Homo sapiens: one gene and its partner. The protein of the gene in region 1 interacts with the protein of each later gene in a pairwise test. Each region holds a gene or a part of one and is shown in the gene's direction. Other genes may lie near its edges. The genes, in order: TBCB and GAN.

Region 1 (9,149 bases):
CAGTGTGCCGGGGTAGGGTCCTGGGAGCCCCTGGCTGTGTCAAGAGACCCCCTTTGGGCCAGGTGCGGTGGCTCATGCCTGTAATCCCAGCACTTTGGGAGGCCAAGGCAGGCGGATCACTTGACGTCAGGAGTTCAAGACTAGCCTGGCCAACATGGTGAAACTCTGTCTCTACCAAAAATACAAAAATTAGCCCGGTGTGGTGGTGCATGCCTGTAGTCCCAGCTACTCAGGAGGCTGAGGCAGGAGAATCGTTTGAACCCGGGAGGTGGAGGTTCCAGTGAGCCAAGATGGTGCCACTGCACTCCAGCCTGGGCAACAAGAGTGAAACTCCGTCTCAAAAAAAGAAAAAAAAATAGGAGACCCCCTTTTACTTTCCAGACTGTGGGAGGGAGGAAGAGTGTTGTCCCAGGCAGTAACTAGGGGCTAGATTATTAACAAACTAGTATTTTAGTGCCTGCTACACCTGAACAGTGCTTCTGGCTGAATGTTAGCCCTGGGAATCTGAAGATCAGAGAGGTGGGGCATCCTACCTGAGGATGCACAGCCTGGATCCTCATTTTGCCCTGATTTATCCAGATCTGCTGTCCTCCCTGCACCCTACAGAGCAGGGCAATCACAGCAGGGGGCCCCTTCAGTGTCCTCAGACAGCTGCTGTGATTTGAATAACCAGGCAGGCTGCTGGATGTCCCCTGGTGACTGATTTGCCTGGCAAACAGACCCTCAACCCCTGGGAGACAGTCCCCCTGGGGCCTTGTTTCTTCTTCCTATCCTCAAAAGCTCCCCAGGCCCATCTCCCCTTGCCTGGCTCTGCTTGGTGGTCCTAGTGCTTGTCCACCCCTGGAGGCTGGATGGTTCCCTCCAAAACCTGGGAGAAGATGGGCAGGTCCCCAGGCAGGGGTAACCTGAGCCAGCTTAGTCCACTCCCAGGGCCAGCCAGGAAATTTGCATGAAGAGAATGAGGTTCCTCAGAGGCTTCCCCTCCTTTCCCACCAGGGATAGTCATCCTGGGGCTGAGGTCTGACAGCAGGTGGAAGCAGCCCCTGTGTGTGGAGAGCCTTCCGGAGGGCATGCCCCGCGCCTTCCTGGTCAGGAGTCGGCGTCCACAGCCCCCCAACTGGGGCCATCTGCCTGACCAGCTCCGGGGAGATGCCTATATCCCAGGTGGGCCCCTCACTGTGCCTGGAGGTAAGGGGCAGGAGAGACGCAGTGTCACCATCTGGCTTTTCTCCTCAGACTGCAGCAGCCTGGGGGGGCCACCGGCACAACAGTCGTCCAGTGTCAGGGATCCGTGGACAGCGGTGAGTGTGTAACTGGCTAGCAAAGCCAGCTGTTTCGCTCCTGCCTGCTCTCAGCCTTAATGAAGCTGACAGCCCCTTGCTCCCCCGACCCATCTGCACACGCCCTCCAGCCTCGGGACCTGTCCGCCCCTACTTCTCTGTGTTGGGAATGCCTCTCCTTTCCTAGTAGTGAGCTCTCTACTGTTAGGTCTCACCCCAGGCACCAGGGCCGGCAGCCACAGGGATCTCTTCCAGCGGGGCACAAGATTCATCCCCACATGTGGATGATCCGCTTTATGTCAGAACATGGGACAAGGCAACAGGAGTGCGATGGGAGATAAGGGCTTTTTCAGCTGTGCATGCATTGGAGGAAGGAAAGCGCCAGCCGGAATGTAATATATTCATGAAAGCAAGGCACTGTTCTAGGCATGGGCTGTTATATTCAGCGGGAATAAGACAAAAATCCACAATTTTATGGAGCTTATATTCTGGTTGGGGCTGCATGTATAGACAATAAAATTAGTCAGCCTGTAATTCCAGCACTTTGGGAGGCCGAGGCGGGTGAATCACTTGAGGTCATGAGTTCGAGACCAGGCTGGCCAACATGTTGAAACCTTGTCTCTACTAAAATTACAAACATTAGCCAGACATGGTGGCACGTGCCTGTAATCCCAGCTCCTCAGGAGGCTGAGGCAGGAGAATCAGTTGAACCTAGGAGGCAGGGCAGAGGATGCAGTGAGCCGAGTCTGCGCCACTGCACTCCAGCCTGGGAAACAGATCTAGACTCCATCCCCCCTCAAAAAAAACAATAAAATTAGAAAAATAGACCGGGCATAGTGGCTCATGCCTGTAATCCCAGCACTTTGTGAGGCCAAGGTGGGTGGATTGCTTGAGGTCAGGAATTCAAGACCAGCCTGGCCAACATGGTGAAACCCCATCTCTACAAAAAATAAAAAAATTAACTGGGCATGTGGCGCATGCCTACAATCGTGTAATCGTGGGGAGGCTGAGGCACTAGAATCGCTTGAACCCGGGAGGCGGAGGTTGCAGTGACCTGACATCATACCACTTCACTCCTGCCTGGGCGACAGAGCAAGACTCTGTCTTTAAAAAAAAAAAATGTGTATGTCACATCAGAAGATGGGACTTGGCATAGAGAAAGTAAGGACCATGGGATAGTGAGGGAAGGCCCTGGAGAGTGACAGGCACACACACTAATCACTGTCTCCCACCTGCCTTCCTAATCCTCCGTGGTGGCTCAGGACACTCTGTAAATACTCATTTGCAGAGTAACAAAGGGTGGATGGGGTCCAGCCAGAGAGGCTAATAACTCCTGCATCCCTCCAGCAGCCCACACAGGGCAACCTGACCTCTGCTCCCAGGGGCCCTGGGACGCTGGGCTGCCCGCTCTGCCCTAAGGCCTTCCCTCTGCAGCGCATGCTGACAAGGCACCTCAAGTGCCACAGCCCCGTGCGCCGCCACCTGTGCCGCTGTTGTGGCAAGGGCTTTCATGACGCCTTCGATCTCAAGCGCCACATGAGGACTCACACTGGTGAGCAGTGGCAGGGACAGGGAAAAGTTGCTGGGCCCCAGGTGGGGATGGAAGGAAATGGAGAGAGGTGCTGGGCTGTGGAGTGTCCATGGTTTGTGTATGTGGGGTATGGAGAATCAAGACATGATGTCTCTCGGACCCCAGTGGGTGGGTGTAAGGTGGCACCAAAATAGGGGCCTGTCACGGAATGCAGAGTGCAGACGGATGCCGGTTATACGATTCAGGCTCCAGATCGAAAGGCAAGGGAAGGCCTCCCTCTCCATCCCCCAGGGGAGGGAGCATCCTGGTGAGGGAGAGTGGAGACACAGGTGTCTGGCCCATGTCTGCACTGGGTGACGGTAGCAGATGGTGGGTCATGGGCGGAAGAGTCTGAAGAGCTTGGAATAGGTACCAGAAATGCTCAACACTGGAAAGCAGGGTGGGGGCGCTTTAGTCCAGAGCCCATTGCCCTCTCTGTCCAGCCCTCCCCTCTGCGCCCATCTGTGCAGGGATCCGGCCCTTCCGCTGCAGTGCTTGCGGGAAAGCGTTTACGCAGCGCTGCTCCCTGGAAGCTCACCTTGCTAAGGTGCATGGACAGCCGGCCAGCTACGCTTACCGTGAGCGCCGCGAGAAGCTGCACGTGTGCGAGGACTGCGGCTTCACCAGCTCCCGGCCCGACACCTACGCACAGCACCGCGCCCTGCACCGCGCAGCCTGATACGGTGTGCCAGCGTCCTCCCCACGAGGCAAATAAACACAGAAAACTCACGCATGGAATCTGGTGTTTATTACACTCGGGGGAGAGAGGAGGTCACTCGGTCCAGCGGTGGCCGCAGTGTGGGGCTGTGCACACGTAGTAAAGGCGCATGGCGTCCTGGCAGAAATGATGCATGGTTAGGAAGGATTTGGACCCAGCAGCGCCTTACCCCAAAAGAACAGGCAAGAGAACTTCACCAATAGGTAAGGGCCCGGCAGAGTTCCAAGAAGCGCAGGGTCACCCACATTGATATCCCCGCCCCCAGAAAGGACCAAACAAGCCCCAGATACTTAGAAAGCCCTCGCGCCACTTACCTCGGCCCGCGCACTGTGTGACTGGAAGAACACAGCCTCCTTGTGGCCGCACCTGAGAGGGTAGGGGCTCGGTCACCGGAGGCTTCACACCCTTCCCTCCTCCCTTCGCCCAGTGAGGAGACGAGCCTCACTTTACCTCCCCAGTACCAGCTGAACGCTCACTTTTGGCACGGGTGGTCCTCGGTCCGCGGCAACGTGGGGTCCTGGGACACGTCGGCGATAATCTGGGTCAGTTCGCTGCAGGGACGCGGGGGTGCAAAATTACGCTCAGACCCAGCCTCCAGAGCCAACACCCCCGCCCCCAGCTCAGGGCCCGCCACTCACTCCACTTCGTGCGTGATCTTGTTGACATAGATGCAGCTGTTGTCGGCCTCCTGCTGGTAATCACAGTTCCGGCACTACGAGAGGGCGAGTGTGGGGGAAAGGGGGTCACGGAAGGATTCCAGACAAGATTGGGAGGAGAGGGCAGGGTGATCCCGGAGGATATGACGACAGGACTCTCTTTGGGGATGGGCAGGACATGAGAGTCAGGATCACTTGAGGTGCAGCGGAGGGCGAACAGGGAGTCCGATCACAGAGGCAGGGGGCAGGGCGGGGCCACGCTGGGAACAGGTGGACCTGCCGGGGAAGACCCCGGCGCTCACCGCGTAGAGCAGAATGCGGTTCTCCTTGTCTTCCTTGGGGTACAGCATGTTGTTACTGTGGGGAGGGGGAGGTGCCAGGGGTTAGTTCTGGAGCCATTCCTCGCCCGCCTTCTAACATCACCCGCTCCCTCCGCCTCACCATTCCTGGCAGAAGCGAATACCCACGAAGCCCGGCTCGTAAGTCCCGTCGGGCTCCATGGCGACGCGCAGCCCGCGCAGCCCTCCCAGCCTTCCGCGCTTGCTCCGCCGCGCTACAGGTCGCGGGAGGGGCCAGGCCTAGGTGCTTCGCCAAAAGAGGGCGGAGCTGCGCACACGTGCTGGCTCCCCGCCGCCTCGGGCTCGGCTCTCTCCGCGCAGAGGTTTCATGGCTTGCTTCAATCTTTTGATATCTTAGAGTAATTGCTTCCAATTTTTGGGCATCGCCGCCTCAGTTTACAGAATAGTATGGATCTGGTGCCAGAGCCGGGAAAACGATGCGCATCGTAAACCGCAAAACACTGAGCATCCAGGACAGAAGCCAAGGCGCTTGGCTTGGTTGAAGGCCAGTGCGCATGCGCGAGTTTACCCTTCGCGGACTGGGCGAGCTCTTGCCACTCCTACCTCCGGGCTTCAGTCTTCGCCGCCTGTTCTGGTCCTTTCCCGGGCCGCTATTGGAAGAACCGTGAACTATGGAAGGCCCCTCTGGATTGGCTGGGCTGGCCCAAGAGTAAGGAGAGCCCTCTTCCTGGCGGTGGGGAAGGGACGGCGGCGATTGGCGGACGCTCCTGGCAGGAGAGCGCGGATTGGTCAGGCACGGAGCAGGAGGCGGGGCTGATAGCCCAGCAGCAGCAGCGGCGGCGGCGGCTGCGGAGCGGGTGTGAGGCGGCTGGACCGCGCTGCAGGCATCCGCAGGGCGCGGCAAGATGGAGGTGACGGGGGTGTCGGCACCCACGGTGACCGTTTTCATCAGCAGCTCCCTCAACACCTTCCGCTCCGAGAAGCGATACAGCCGCAGCCTCACCATCGCTGAGTTCAAGGTGTGGCCATGGGGGCGGGGTCCGGAGGGGCGGGGCGAAGAAATTGGGGGGTTCCCGGAAGGGGGAGGCTGGGAGGGGCCGGGGAGTGACTGGGCGGGCCCGGAGGTGATCCCAGGCTGCGGAGGCTGGGGACCCGGTCGCGGCGGGGCGGGTCCGGAGAGAACTCGAGAGTGCAGAGATGAGGGCCGGGTCCAGCGAAAAATCCGACGGTCCAGAGGGCGGGGGCAAGAGGCGAGGGGCTGGATTGCGGCCCCGTGCGTCCTGACTGGGGGGTCTTTTGGAGGAAAAGGGACGTGGCGATGGTCATTGATGCAAGGGGCGGGGCCTCCGTGGCCTCCTTCTTCTCACCCTGCCTCCTCCTCACAGTGTAAACTGGAGTTGCTGGTGGGCAGCCCTGCTTCCTGCATGGAACTGGAGCTGTATGGAGTTGACGACAAGTTCTACAGCAAGCTGGATCAAGAGGATGCGCTCCTGGGCTCCTACCCTGTAGATGACGGCTGCCGCATCCACGTGAGGACTCTCTATCTGGGACACTCCCCCACCCCACCTTTCATTTGGTTATTCAACAGACACTTGCTGGGCTTTGCCCTCAGTCATACCCGAGATAGGTCCTGCCTTCGTGGAGCCTCCAGTGCAGCCTGACGAGAGACAGACCCATCATTAGACAGGGACAGCCTAGAGTGGTCTGGGCTGGGATCAGGAAATCCCAGGGGACTGGAGCCACCAAGAAGAGGTGCCTGACTCCACCTGGGAGAATCAGAGAGGGCTTCCTGGAGGAAGGGATGTCTGAGCTGAGGGATGAGGAAAGGGTGACTTAAGAGAAAGAGGTGGAAAGGAGGGAGCAGGGTGTACAGAGGCCTAGAATGTGAGGTAGGTCACAGTGAGCGACCAGGCTGGACAGCTTGGGAGAAACCAGAACACAGGATCTCTTTGTGCATCCACTCAGTACATCCTTTCTGTCTTTTTTTGAGACAGAGTCTCACTCTGTCACCCAACCTGGAATGGAGTGCAGTGGCACTATCGGGCTCACTGCAGCCTTCACCTCCTGGGTTCAAGTGATCCTTGTGCCCCAGCCTCCCGAGTAGCTGGGATTACAGGTGCCCACCCAGCTAATTTTTGTATTTTTAGTAGAGATGGGTTTTTGCCATGTTGGCCAGGCTGGTCTGGAACTCCTGACCTCAAGTGATCAGCTCACCTTGGCCTACTAAAGTGCTGGGATTACAGGCGTGAGCCACCAAGCCCAGCCCCTTTCTGTCCTTATTCCCTCCCGACCTCACTCAGTCTGTAGCAGCCACATTGCTCCTTGCACAGTCCAGGTGAGCTCGGCCTCTGGATCCTGGGCCTGAATGGTTCTTTTGTCATATGCCTGCGTGCCTCACCCTTCCTTCCTGTCTTAATTTAAAGTGTCAGTATTCTAGTGAAGTCTTCACCGGCCTCAGTGTTAACGTTTACCTCATTCCTTTCCCCTTCTTTGCTTTATTTTAGATTTTTGTGTTTACAAGTAATTCTCCTCTGACACACTCTGGATTTCTCTCATCTGGTTTATTTACTCTCTGTCTCCCTGGATTCGAGTGCCCTGAGGGTGGAAATTTTGATCACTATAATTCACTACTGTGTCCCCAGTACTTGGAATAGTGCCTGGGACAGGGAGGATAGTCCGTGAATCGTTTTTTGTTTTGTTTTGTTCGAGACAGAGTTTTGCCCTTGTTCCCCAGGCCGGAATGCAGTGGTGTGATCTCAGCTCACTGCAACCTCTGTCTCCTGGGTTCAAGCTATTCTCCTGCCTCAGCCTCCCAAGTAGCTGGGATTACAGGTGTGCACCACCACGCCTGGCTAATTTTGTAATTTTGTATTTTAAGTAGAGTTGGGGTTTCACCATGTTGGCCAGGCTGGTCTTGAACTCCTGACCTCAAGTGATCTGCCCACCTCAGCCTCGCAAAGTGCTGGGATTACAGGCATGAGCCACCACGCCCAGCCCTGTGAATCATTGTTGAATGATGAATTGAATCCATAAAGTAAGACCACAAGGATAATGTAATTATCCCCATTTTGCAGAAGAGAAAATTTAGCTTCAGGGTGGAGTTTATTTATTTATTTTTTATTTTTTTTGAGACAGAGTCTTGCTCTGTCTCCCAGGCTGGCGTGCAGTGGCATGATCTCGGCTCACTGCAACCTCCGCCTCCCCGGTTCAAGCGATTCTCCTGCCTCAGCCTCCCGAGTAGGTGGGATTACAGATGCCCGCCACTACACCAGGGTAATTTTTGTATTTTTAGTAGAGACGGGGTTTCACCATGTTAGTCAGACTGGTCTCGAACTCCTGACCTCAGGTAATCCGCCCACCTCGGCCTCCCAAAGTGCTGGGATTACAGGCATGAGCCACCGCACCCGGCCCAGAATCTACTTTCTTAAGGATGAACTGTCAGTAGCATTTTGGCCCCAGTCTACATGACTCTAGAGAGAACTGCTTCTTTTTTCTCTCGTTGATTAACTGTTCATTCCCCATCTGTGTTGTGCCAGGGGTTTCATTATGACTGCATCTGAGAAGTTCTAGTGTATGAGGCAGATGTTGGCTAAATGGCCAGAGGACTGAATGTGAAGGGTCAGGGGAGACAAGGGTTGTGTAGGAGATCATGAAGCTGGGAGACCCTATCCTGGGGTACCTGATGCATCAGTGACGTCTGGGAGGACATCCTGGAGGTGGTGCTGCTGGAGCAGAGACGAGAAGAATAAAAAGAATTGGTCGGGCATGGTGGTTCACGCCTGTAATCCCAGTGCCTTGGGAGGCTGAGGTGGACAGATCACTTAAGGTCAGGAGTTCGAGACGGTGAAACCCCGTCTCTCCTAAAAATACAGAAATTAGCTGGGCGTGGTGGCAGATGCCTGTAATCCTAGCTACTCAGGAGGCTGAGGCAGGAGGATCACTTGAACCCAGGAGCTGGAAGTTGCAGTGAGCTGAGATCACACCACTGCACTCCAGTTTGGATGATAGAGTGAGATCCTATCTTTAAAAAAAAAAAAAAAAAAAAGGTTAACTGAAGATGGGGAAGGGGTGCCCTAGGAGTGGGGCACAACCCAGCAAACACTCCAAGGTGGGAGGGAGCGCGGTGGGGATTAAGACAGGCCACTTCTGTGGCCAAACACTGTGGAAGCTGGGGAGGACCCTGACCTGGCTCAGGTGTTCACAGGCCCCCTCTGGCTGTGTGTGGGGAACAGGTGGTGGAGGACAGGAAGAGTAGGGAGACCAGGAAGGGGCTGCTGTGAGAGTCCTGATGAGGGGACGAGGTCTGGAGCTGTGGGTCAGGCCTCTGCTGGGTGCACAGGACTGAGCCTTTGGGCCACCCTGGGCAGCTGAAGCTAAGGGGTGCGGGTGTTCATAGGCACCTCATAGGCAGTGGCATCTTTGAGCAGGTTTCATAACAGGCGGTTCAGGTACACACAGACCTCCCAGGCCACTCAAGGAAGGTGTTCCAGAGTGGAGCCACTGGGGAATTTTTACATTTTCTAAAATTCTTTTTCTCTTTATAAATATCACCCATATTCATTGTTTAAAATAACAGAACTTCAAATTTGTGAAAATTCTCAACAGAAATTCTCAGTGACGCTTCAT
Region 2 (8,843 bases), on another chromosome or scaffold:
CATTGAATTAGGAAATATCTGTAGTCCGGTTCTTTCACTTTCTAAATAAGAAAATAGGGGCTCAGTGGACATTAGTGACTTGTGTTATGAGGTTATTAGTACTTAATGGTTGAACTAGGATTAGACTCCAAATTAATTACGGCTAACCGCCTTCCTACTCTTGCCCTACCACGTTAGAGCATTACTTGTATTTCACCGTTCTCTTTGTGTAAACTTTACTGTTAGCTGGCTTACAATATCTTAGAATTAAAATGTTTATCAAGCACTTTTACATACTGTGTCATTTTGGTTTCCATTTTCAATCATCTTTAAAGAGAAGGCAGATTTTTTTTTTTTATGTTTTGTGGATAAACATGAATCAGTCAATATGTGTTTCATCAGTGACAGATGAATTGCTTTAAGTTTATTTGGCTATTGAAGTGATAGAATGTCTTGGGATGTTTTTAAAAATTATCAATTCCGAAGCTGTTTCAAAGTAATTTGACGAATCTGTATCACTAACTAGAAAGAAATTTGTTAATTTTGTATTTTTACTGGTAATTTTAATACCAATAATATTGGGCTTTTATAATGTACTTGTTTGTTTGAATAGCACTTTAGAGAATTATATTGAAACAAAATATATTTATGTATTCTAGAACTTGATGTTTCTTATCTTTCCCTTTTGAAACTTAAGCATTTAGATCTGTGATATCATTAATCTGTGAATTGAATGTTCAAAAGTTTGGTAATCTCTGAAGTTTTATAAAATTCTGATTTTGTTTAATGTCTGTGTTTGGCCTAGTGTTGGTAACTGTCATAAGTGGTTGTGTGATTGTGTGGTTTAGAAGCAGTGGTATGGCCTGGCATGGTAGCTCACACCTGTAATCCTAGCACTGTGAGAGGTGGAGGCGGGAGGATCGTTTGAGGTCAGGAGTTCGAGACTAGCCTGGGCAACATAGTGAGACCCAGTCTGTACAATAATAAATCATGTATATAAAAAATAGGAGCAGTATTGTCTTTTGCTTACTATGTGCCCAACAAAGGAAGCCAGTCCAACTCTGTCACACTGGGAATTAAAGTAACTTGTTTGGCATACTTTCTACTTAATATAGAAAAGTCTTTTGACTTATTGGTTTAATCTTTTATTCTGCTTTATCTTTGGTCTAGCCCTTGTTTTTCCTGCTGACACCCTTAGCAATCCTACCATATTAGAAAGATTTTAAATATAAAAGGAAAAGGCCAGAAAACTCAGCTTTGGCAACACACCCTCATGGTCAGCTCAGAGAGGACTGGCATCCCCGGGTTATGTAGAGAGAGCACGTGTCATGCAGCCCTAGGGTGCAGCTGCTCCAGGAAGGAGGCAGGACCTCCTGCGGTCCCTCAGCTCAGTAAATGGCATGCATGCCCCTTTCCCAGCATGCTCCTTTCCCAAAGCTTTTCCTCCTTTTGGTTCCTGGGTGAGATTTTCTCTTTGGTTTGTTGGGGAAACTAAACCTAAAAGTAGTTGACAGGCTGGGCGCAGTGGCTCATGGCTGTAATTACAGCACTTCGGGAGGCTGAGGCGGGAGGATCCCTTGACCCCGGGAGTTCCAGGATGCAGTGAGCTATGACTGCCACTGCACTGCAGCCTGCCTGGGTGACAGAGACCCTGTCTCTTAAATTAAAAAAAAAATAGATATAGATTATATATATATATATATATCTAACAACCTTTCTAAGAATGGCAAAACCGAATTCATAGTCATAAGCACCCACAGAGCCTTTTCTTTCTCATCAACTCTGAGACCTTCTGGGGAAAGCTCCCTGCGGCTTGCAGGAAATTTATTTTTCTTTTGAATATTACAGTTTGGTCTGCTTCATGTCTGAGGCTCTTCCGATTCTGGCACAGTCCCATTGATCTGATGCAAAGTTCAGACCCATTTCTCTCCTGAGCTGTGGTTCTTGGTGAGTAATGTATGTGAAAAGGATTTGAAAATGAACGGCTATGTGCTTCTGCAGTGACATTATGGTGGCTCTGTACAGGTTTCCAGTCCTGTGATCACTTGTAAAATTTAGGGTTTTCTGGAGACCTATTGCAACAAAAGTTTGTTTAGCTCTCAGTCCTGGAGAGAAAATGAAAAAAAAGATTCCTAAGATTTTTAGATCCTTTGATGAGTCAGCTAAGAATGTAAGTGGCTTCCCCCCGACCCCCCCTTATTTTTTGAGAGAAGGCAGGTCTAGTGAGGATAGAATGAGACATAGGGCCTCAAATCCAGCCTAGGTCATCATGAGCGACTTTTCTGGGCTCTAGCTTCCTTATCTGTGAAGTGAGGTGGTTGGGCTACATGGACAGCAAATCCCCTTTAAGTCTAAGTTATGTAGCTCTATGCTATTTTTGTTTTGCCTCATGTGTATGTGTTGTGAGGAGGAGGACCTGTTTCTGTTTTTATAGCTTTATTGTGTCATTTAAAGTTTTGTTTTATGTTAATATTAAAGCATTTCCATTCCCCTGTCATACAGGACTTTATTGGGTATTCTGTTGTATAAATCCAGGCCTGTAGAGTTGTATCACAACAATCATTTATTTTATGCTGTTAATCTGGGTATGTTCCAAGGCCTAATTATTGATGAGCCTGTTTTGCCATTTAAATATAAAGTTTGACTCACAGATGATACTGATGAAACTACTTAAGGAGACTAATAGGATCTCTGTAGGAGGTCCAAGTTTCATAGTAACATAGACATTATTTTTTGAATATCTGAAACATACACTGTAGTTTAATGTCACATGGGCACTAAAGTCCGTGAGTACTATGTGGTGTGTGCAGAGCCTGCTTTTCATCCCCAGTTTACTTTTGTTGATTAATTTATGTGAATAACTGCATAGCCTCTTATTAGATTCTTTGCTTCCCTGTTAATGCTGAGAATACACTCCCGAGGCAGCAGTATCCACTAAGTGTTCCCTGGTAATGAGAGTCTGGCTGTGAAGCAAAGTGATTTCACAGTAATGTTCAGTTAATAATGTTTTGCTTTCTTTACAATATTTTCATAATCTTTTCTTCACTTGTGTTTCGAGTTTATAGTCTTCATAGCAGCTCCCGAATGATTGTCATAAGGATCTTGAATAGTGATTGTAGCCTGTGAAGTTTCTTAGTGCTCAGGGGTTCAGTTAGAAGCTCCAGTTTCTGAGTATCTTTTGAAATCCTGAGCACACTTAAAATAAAATTGACATTACCTGTTCCTTGTACTCTTATGGTGATGGAAAATAAGCTGGGCTTGAGTCTCTTTTAAGGGATCTAGACTTTGTTTTTATCTACTTACTATAAGGCGTTCCTAACAACTGCTCAGAAGATGAAATTTGTCCAGAAGGTCTTGATAGTTTAATGGTTCTCAGTGATTTTCCTTTTCTTTTTTTTTTCCTTTTTTCTTTTTTGTAATCACAACCTTGTTTGATTAAACCCTATTCTTACTGAGTTTTTCAAAAGCGATAATAACTATGTTCAGTTTCAGAAGATCAAAGACATATTTTATCCAGGCTTCTAAGGAAACTAAGCACTTGTAAATTTCAATTTAACACAGATTACTCATGTCAGTTTAAAGATATTTGTTTATTTTATATAACACAGTGGTTGCCACTATTAGTAGCAGTAGATGTTCTAATTCTGGAGAGGTTTTTGGAAGGTTTCAAATGATGAAACAAATCAACAAAATTCTTGTTAGACTAGTGTCTGTAGCATAGAGGGAAGTGTGGGGTGTTCAGATTTATCGTAGAACTTTCCCGAGGATTGTTATTATGAGTAATAGTAATGTGATAGGAGTAAAACCTAGCTCTGGTTAATTTTCTCTAGTGGATAAGTCCTCACTCTTTTACCTATACTGTTTTTACTTCTGCCTCTTCTTATAGTTTGCATTTTCTCCTGTGATGTCTCCTTCAATGTTCTTAAATTAGTTTTTGTTATATAATTTAGGATTGAAGTAAAATGCTCTTCCACATAGAAACTCTGGTTCCTTAGGATTTATATTTGGATGATATAGAGTAAGCATCCAGTTTTCAAAACCGCCTTATCCATTGTTTAAAGTGTTAATGAGTTCTTATGATATCAAAGTGGGACTTAAAATCTATTTATAATTTGTAAGGAAAACATAATTAGGACAAATAAGGGTTCATTTGGTCTGTGAGTGCCATGCAATAAGTTCTTCACAGGGTTGCATCATCCTTCTGAAAGACACAAGACTATCATTTTGTGTACTAAAGCTGTAATATAAATGAATGATTTGTGAGTTTGAATTCTGGGTTAAGGGTGGAGATACGGGGGTGTGAGATGTGACACGTGGCAGGCTATGGTTGCGACCTTGCATTTGAGCGCTTCCCATGGGTTCTCTTCCTCCTAAGCCACAACAAATCCAAAGAAGGAAGGAAATCAAAGGCTCAGGTAAAGGTGGCAGCTCTGGCTCTGTGGAGGATAAAGATTCTATGTCCATCTAGATGGCCCGACACTCTACCAGAGTTCCTGATTCTGGTGCTTGGAAGAGCAGAGTTAAATCATCTTCCTAAGTACTTAGGGCCAAAGAGTGACTTAGCCATAGAATGATGGTCAGATGTTTGCTGCATTCATTTCTCTCTGGGAATGTGAATGCCCTAATTTCTCATAAAGATTATTACAGAAATACTGCAAAATAGAAATACGTAGTACTTTGCCATTTGCTATTATAGTGAAGGGATTTGGACTTTTCCTCTGTTCAAATAAGTTAGAAAAATGGAATACTTAGGTAAATAAGATCTTGGTGAAATATTTTGTTGGTTATCTCCAGTGTTCACCACATGCAGAGGAGATAAGACATCTCAGCAGCGGCTAGGTACTAGCAAGATGGTGGCAACCAACTGGCAAGGCCTTTGCCCTTCTGGAGCCTCCATTTCAATAGAGTAAGGCTTAGAGGGCCAATGCGTATCATAAATGGAAGATAGGAGGACTAGTTTTTAAAAGTTGACTGTTGAATAATGAAATACAGACCAATTAAATATCTTTGGGGTTTATTTGGATTTGAGTTTTTATAGAAACTTAAATGTATATTTTTGCTCGTAGATATTTTGTGGTTCTCTCAACTACAAAGTTGTTTATGTTTTTAAGAACAATTTTAAAGACCATTTGATGCTTGTGATTTTTATGGTAACATATTAATATGACTAGATATATTTTGAAACATAGTTTTATGGTCCTATTAGCATTCATCAGTAACCAGTTGCCTACACCTCTGAATAATAGTAAATGGTTTAGTATTACTGAGCTCAAAATATTTGCACTTTTGTCACTTAAATTGTTTATATTGATCAGTCCCTGAATTGTAAGAAACTTCATACTGAAACCTCACATTTAGGCTGTGAGTTTGATATGAGTCTTTTCTAACCCACAGAGAACATTCACTAGAAATGAAGCCAGAAGTTTAAGGACAGCGGGATTTTGAAGGACAATGAAAATCCTTAGAAAGTTCCCTGATATTCGTGTTTGCCATTCTCCTCTCCATGCTACAGCCCCCAGTCTACTTCAGTGATGGAGCTGGAGGCCAGCAGGACCCATTGGTTAATTGTATAGTCTTCCATTTGGTTAGTCCAGGGAATAGTTTCCCACAACTTCTAGCTTCTCTTCCTTACATGAAAGTTGGTACAGGGATTTGACACTTAGTATAACAGATAAGAGACTTCTCTCGGGGTTTTTGGTGGGTTTGTTTGTTCTCCTGCTTGGCCTCCTTAACAGCTACTGTCTTGTGCGACCAAAGCTATCAACTTTGTTCCCCGCCTAAAAATTACAATGCCTGCTGTTGGTAGGAAAGGAATAGACATCTCATTTTTATCACCCCCTGAGTGGGGTGCTTGAGCAAAAGAGGTTACCATTTCCTTTATTTATAGGCTTCTTTCATAGTGATCAGAAAAGGGGTTATGAAAATATTCACTGTCATAATAAGTCTTGGGACATCCTTAAGAAATGTCATCACTGCCTTAACCCATATGCTGTGGGGTTGTGTTTACCAATAATAGATTGCAGTTCAAGAATTAGCATTGTCTAAAGTTATTGAGATATACTGTGTATTGTTTCTTCACAGATATATTTCACAGTAAAGGGACCTTCTATATAATTAGGGTGTTGTTTAGGGAGTTGATTACAGGTTTAGTCGTTTAATACATACACAGGAGATAACTCAAGACATCTCAGCAGCATCTATGTACTGGCAAGATGGTGGCAACGAACTGACAAGGCCACTGTCCTCCTGGAGCCTCCATTTCAGTCATTTACAGAGGATTGCGCCCTCCAGGACTCCATCCTCTTGTGCTGCCTGCCATTGGAGCATTGTATTCAGTGGCCTCCCACAGAGAGTATCAAAACTAACCCAGTATGTGGAGACCTATGTCAGTCTATTTATTTTTCTATCTCTGTGGGGCTGGAGAAGGAAATAAACATAAAACTAAAGATTTAAAGATTACTTTTGATTTCACTTAGTTTTTTTATAACATCCTTGTGTTATGGGTAGTTTCAGAATCTCAAGAATGAGCAGAGAATAGATTTGCTGTGTTTATCAGAGTAGAAACTTCTGATAGTCTGCCCTAAAAGAATTTAATTGGCTGATTTGACCCTTTATTATTATAGTGTTACCCCAATTAATCACATTTACAGAAATGACTTTCTTTAAGTAGAGAACATCAGTTCTTGGCTAAGCCTCTCTAATATGCCCGTTTGTTCATTGCCCTTTCTAGACGGAGTGCCAGCATCCATGGGGGCTACCTGGGGAGGTGAGCAGTAAAGGGGTCTAATTACAGAGCCATATGAGTTTGCCGAAGGAAGTCCACAGAGGATGAGCATGGCTGCTGCTGTGGCCTGGGTGACGGGATCCCTGCTCCGAGGTGGTGCCATTGAAACTGAGATCTGAGGGAGGAGGAGACCTAGGCATGAGAAGAGCAGGGGGAGGCACCAGGATCAGGGGTGGCACCAGGACTAGGTCAGGCCTCTCTGGGAACAGAACACCACATACCTGGAGATGGTGAGCAAAGGGTGGGATGGCATCGACAACAGATTAGAGGCTGGGAAGGCCTGTGATCCCTGAGTTAGAGCTGGCATTTAGACTGCTTCCAAAGAAGATGAAACTTCTGCTGCCATGTTGTGTATTGGGAGCTGGCTGGGGAGGTGATAGGATATGAGAAAGGGACAAAAAAGCAATTGATGGCATAGTTGAGTCTGATAGAGAGTTTAGGCTTTATCTTACGGGCTATGGATGGGCAGTGGTGTATTTTAAAAGAGGAATATTTGTTTGTGTATTGTTTTAAAGTCACTCCAATGCAGTGCTGCTGGGTGTGCTCTATAAAAGCCAAGAGTGGAACCAGCGGCCGTTTCAGCAGGTGCTGCAGTTGTTCAGATGGAAAGTGGGATGCCCTGGGCCAGGTTTGGCAGTGGAGGCGGACACAGCAGCTGGATTACAGACATTTGGCACCAGGACATGTTGATGAGGAAAAGGGCAGACCAGGGATGACTCGCAGCCAGGGATGGCTCCCAGGCAGGGATGGCTCCCAGGCACGGATGCTCCCAGGCATGCTGTTGGCTTCTTCATCGTCACCAACAGATGATGTTCATCACACTTACAGTAGGCATTAAAGTCAGGACAGTTTAGGAAGACTAGTGAAATACAGAGCTTACTCTCAAGTTTTACAGCTTAGTTGTGAAAAAACAAAGTATAGAACAAAAGCTATTTTAATTTTACAGATACTTCTAGCTGTAGGAATTGCGAGGGGAAGAACTACTTGGGCGATCACATATGGAGGAAATGGTATTTGAACAAAGCCTTGGAGAGGATGAGTAGGAGTTGGGTGGGTGAAAGGGGACAGCAGGGCCATTGAGGCAGAACAAAGGATAAATGCAGGAACATCAGGCTTGTGTTTGGGGTAGTGAATAGGAACAGTGGCTGGGAGGAAGGTAAGACATATTCTAGCATGCCGGGTTATTGGTTTAGATTTTTACTTTATCATCAGTTGCTAATCATTAAAGACTAGTACCATACTGAAGCCCTACTTTAAGAAGGCATTTAGTTGCTGTGTATCTACAGGACCAGGAAGGGATGAACATGGAGCTACTAGACCAATTGAGAGCAGCGCACTGGGACAGTGTCCTAGGCATCAAGATGGTGGTGGGTCTCCAGAATTAAGGAGGAAATCAACTGGATGCTAATTGAACATGAGAACTAAGAATGAAGAAAAAAGAAGAGATAACAGTTTTGAGCCTGGCTGCCTAGGGAAAGTGGGGAAGACAACAGTCTGTCTTAAATGTGTTGAATTTGAATTAACATTGCTGTTTAAACACCTTAATTATATTCTTCTAGCCCTTGACAGCTCTGCAGAGTACTTCACCTGTCTGTGAATATGTTTTGCTTTCTGCATGTGTTTCTTGTCTCTCTGCCTTTCTTGACTTCCTACTCTTGCTTGCAGATAATTTCATATTCATCCTTCAAGGCCTGGTTCAAGTATCCCTTCCTCTGTAAGATTTTTCCAACTCTGCCAAATAATCACTCCCTCCAGCAGACTCCTTTAGTTCATGGTGTGTGCCTTCAGCAAGGAGTGCATCATCGCCTCATTTAGTGTGGAAAACCAGTAGACATATGGAGTGGGTGATTTTAAAGCCCATCATCTTTTTTGTCCAGGGCCAGGGGCACTCAGTCCGTAAGCAGAACTTTCATACGTAAGATAATTGAGTTGGTTGGGTGCCGTGGCTCAAGCCTATAATCCCAGCACTTTGGGAGGCTGAAGCGGGCAGATCACCTGAGGTTGGGAGTTCGAGACTAGCCTGACCAACGTGGAGAAACACCATCTCTACTAAAAATACAAAAAAAAAAAAAAAAAAAAT

Evidence for each region.
Region 2: the proteins of TBCB (region 1) and GAN interact in binary tests that used the Homo sapiens proteins (3 or more experiments, as listed by UniProt).

The regions. Positions count from the first base shown.
Region 1 is NC_000019.10:36,110,133-36,119,281, forward strand, and holds the start of TBCB (tubulin-folding cofactor B), read left to right. Parts: upstream 1-5,335; 5' UTR 5,336-5,428; coding exon 5,429-5,542; intron 5,543-5,637; exon of another isoform or gene 5,638-5,796; intron 5,797-5,908; coding exon 5,909-6,052; intron 6,053-9,149. Other genes in the region: OVOL3 (putative transcription factor ovo-like protein 3), read left to right, coding at 1,071-1,164, 1,237-1,301, 2,628-2,832, 3,321-3,529; POLR2I (DNA-directed RNA polymerase II subunit RPB9), read right to left, coding at 3,623-3,685, 3,883-3,934, 4,045-4,119, 4,207-4,280, 4,527-4,581, 4,666-4,724.
Region 2 is NC_000016.10:81,317,542-81,326,384, forward strand, and holds part of GAN (gigaxonin), read left to right. Parts: intron 1-8,843. UniProt on the Homo sapiens protein: Probable cytoskeletal component that directly or indirectly plays an important role in neurofilament architecture.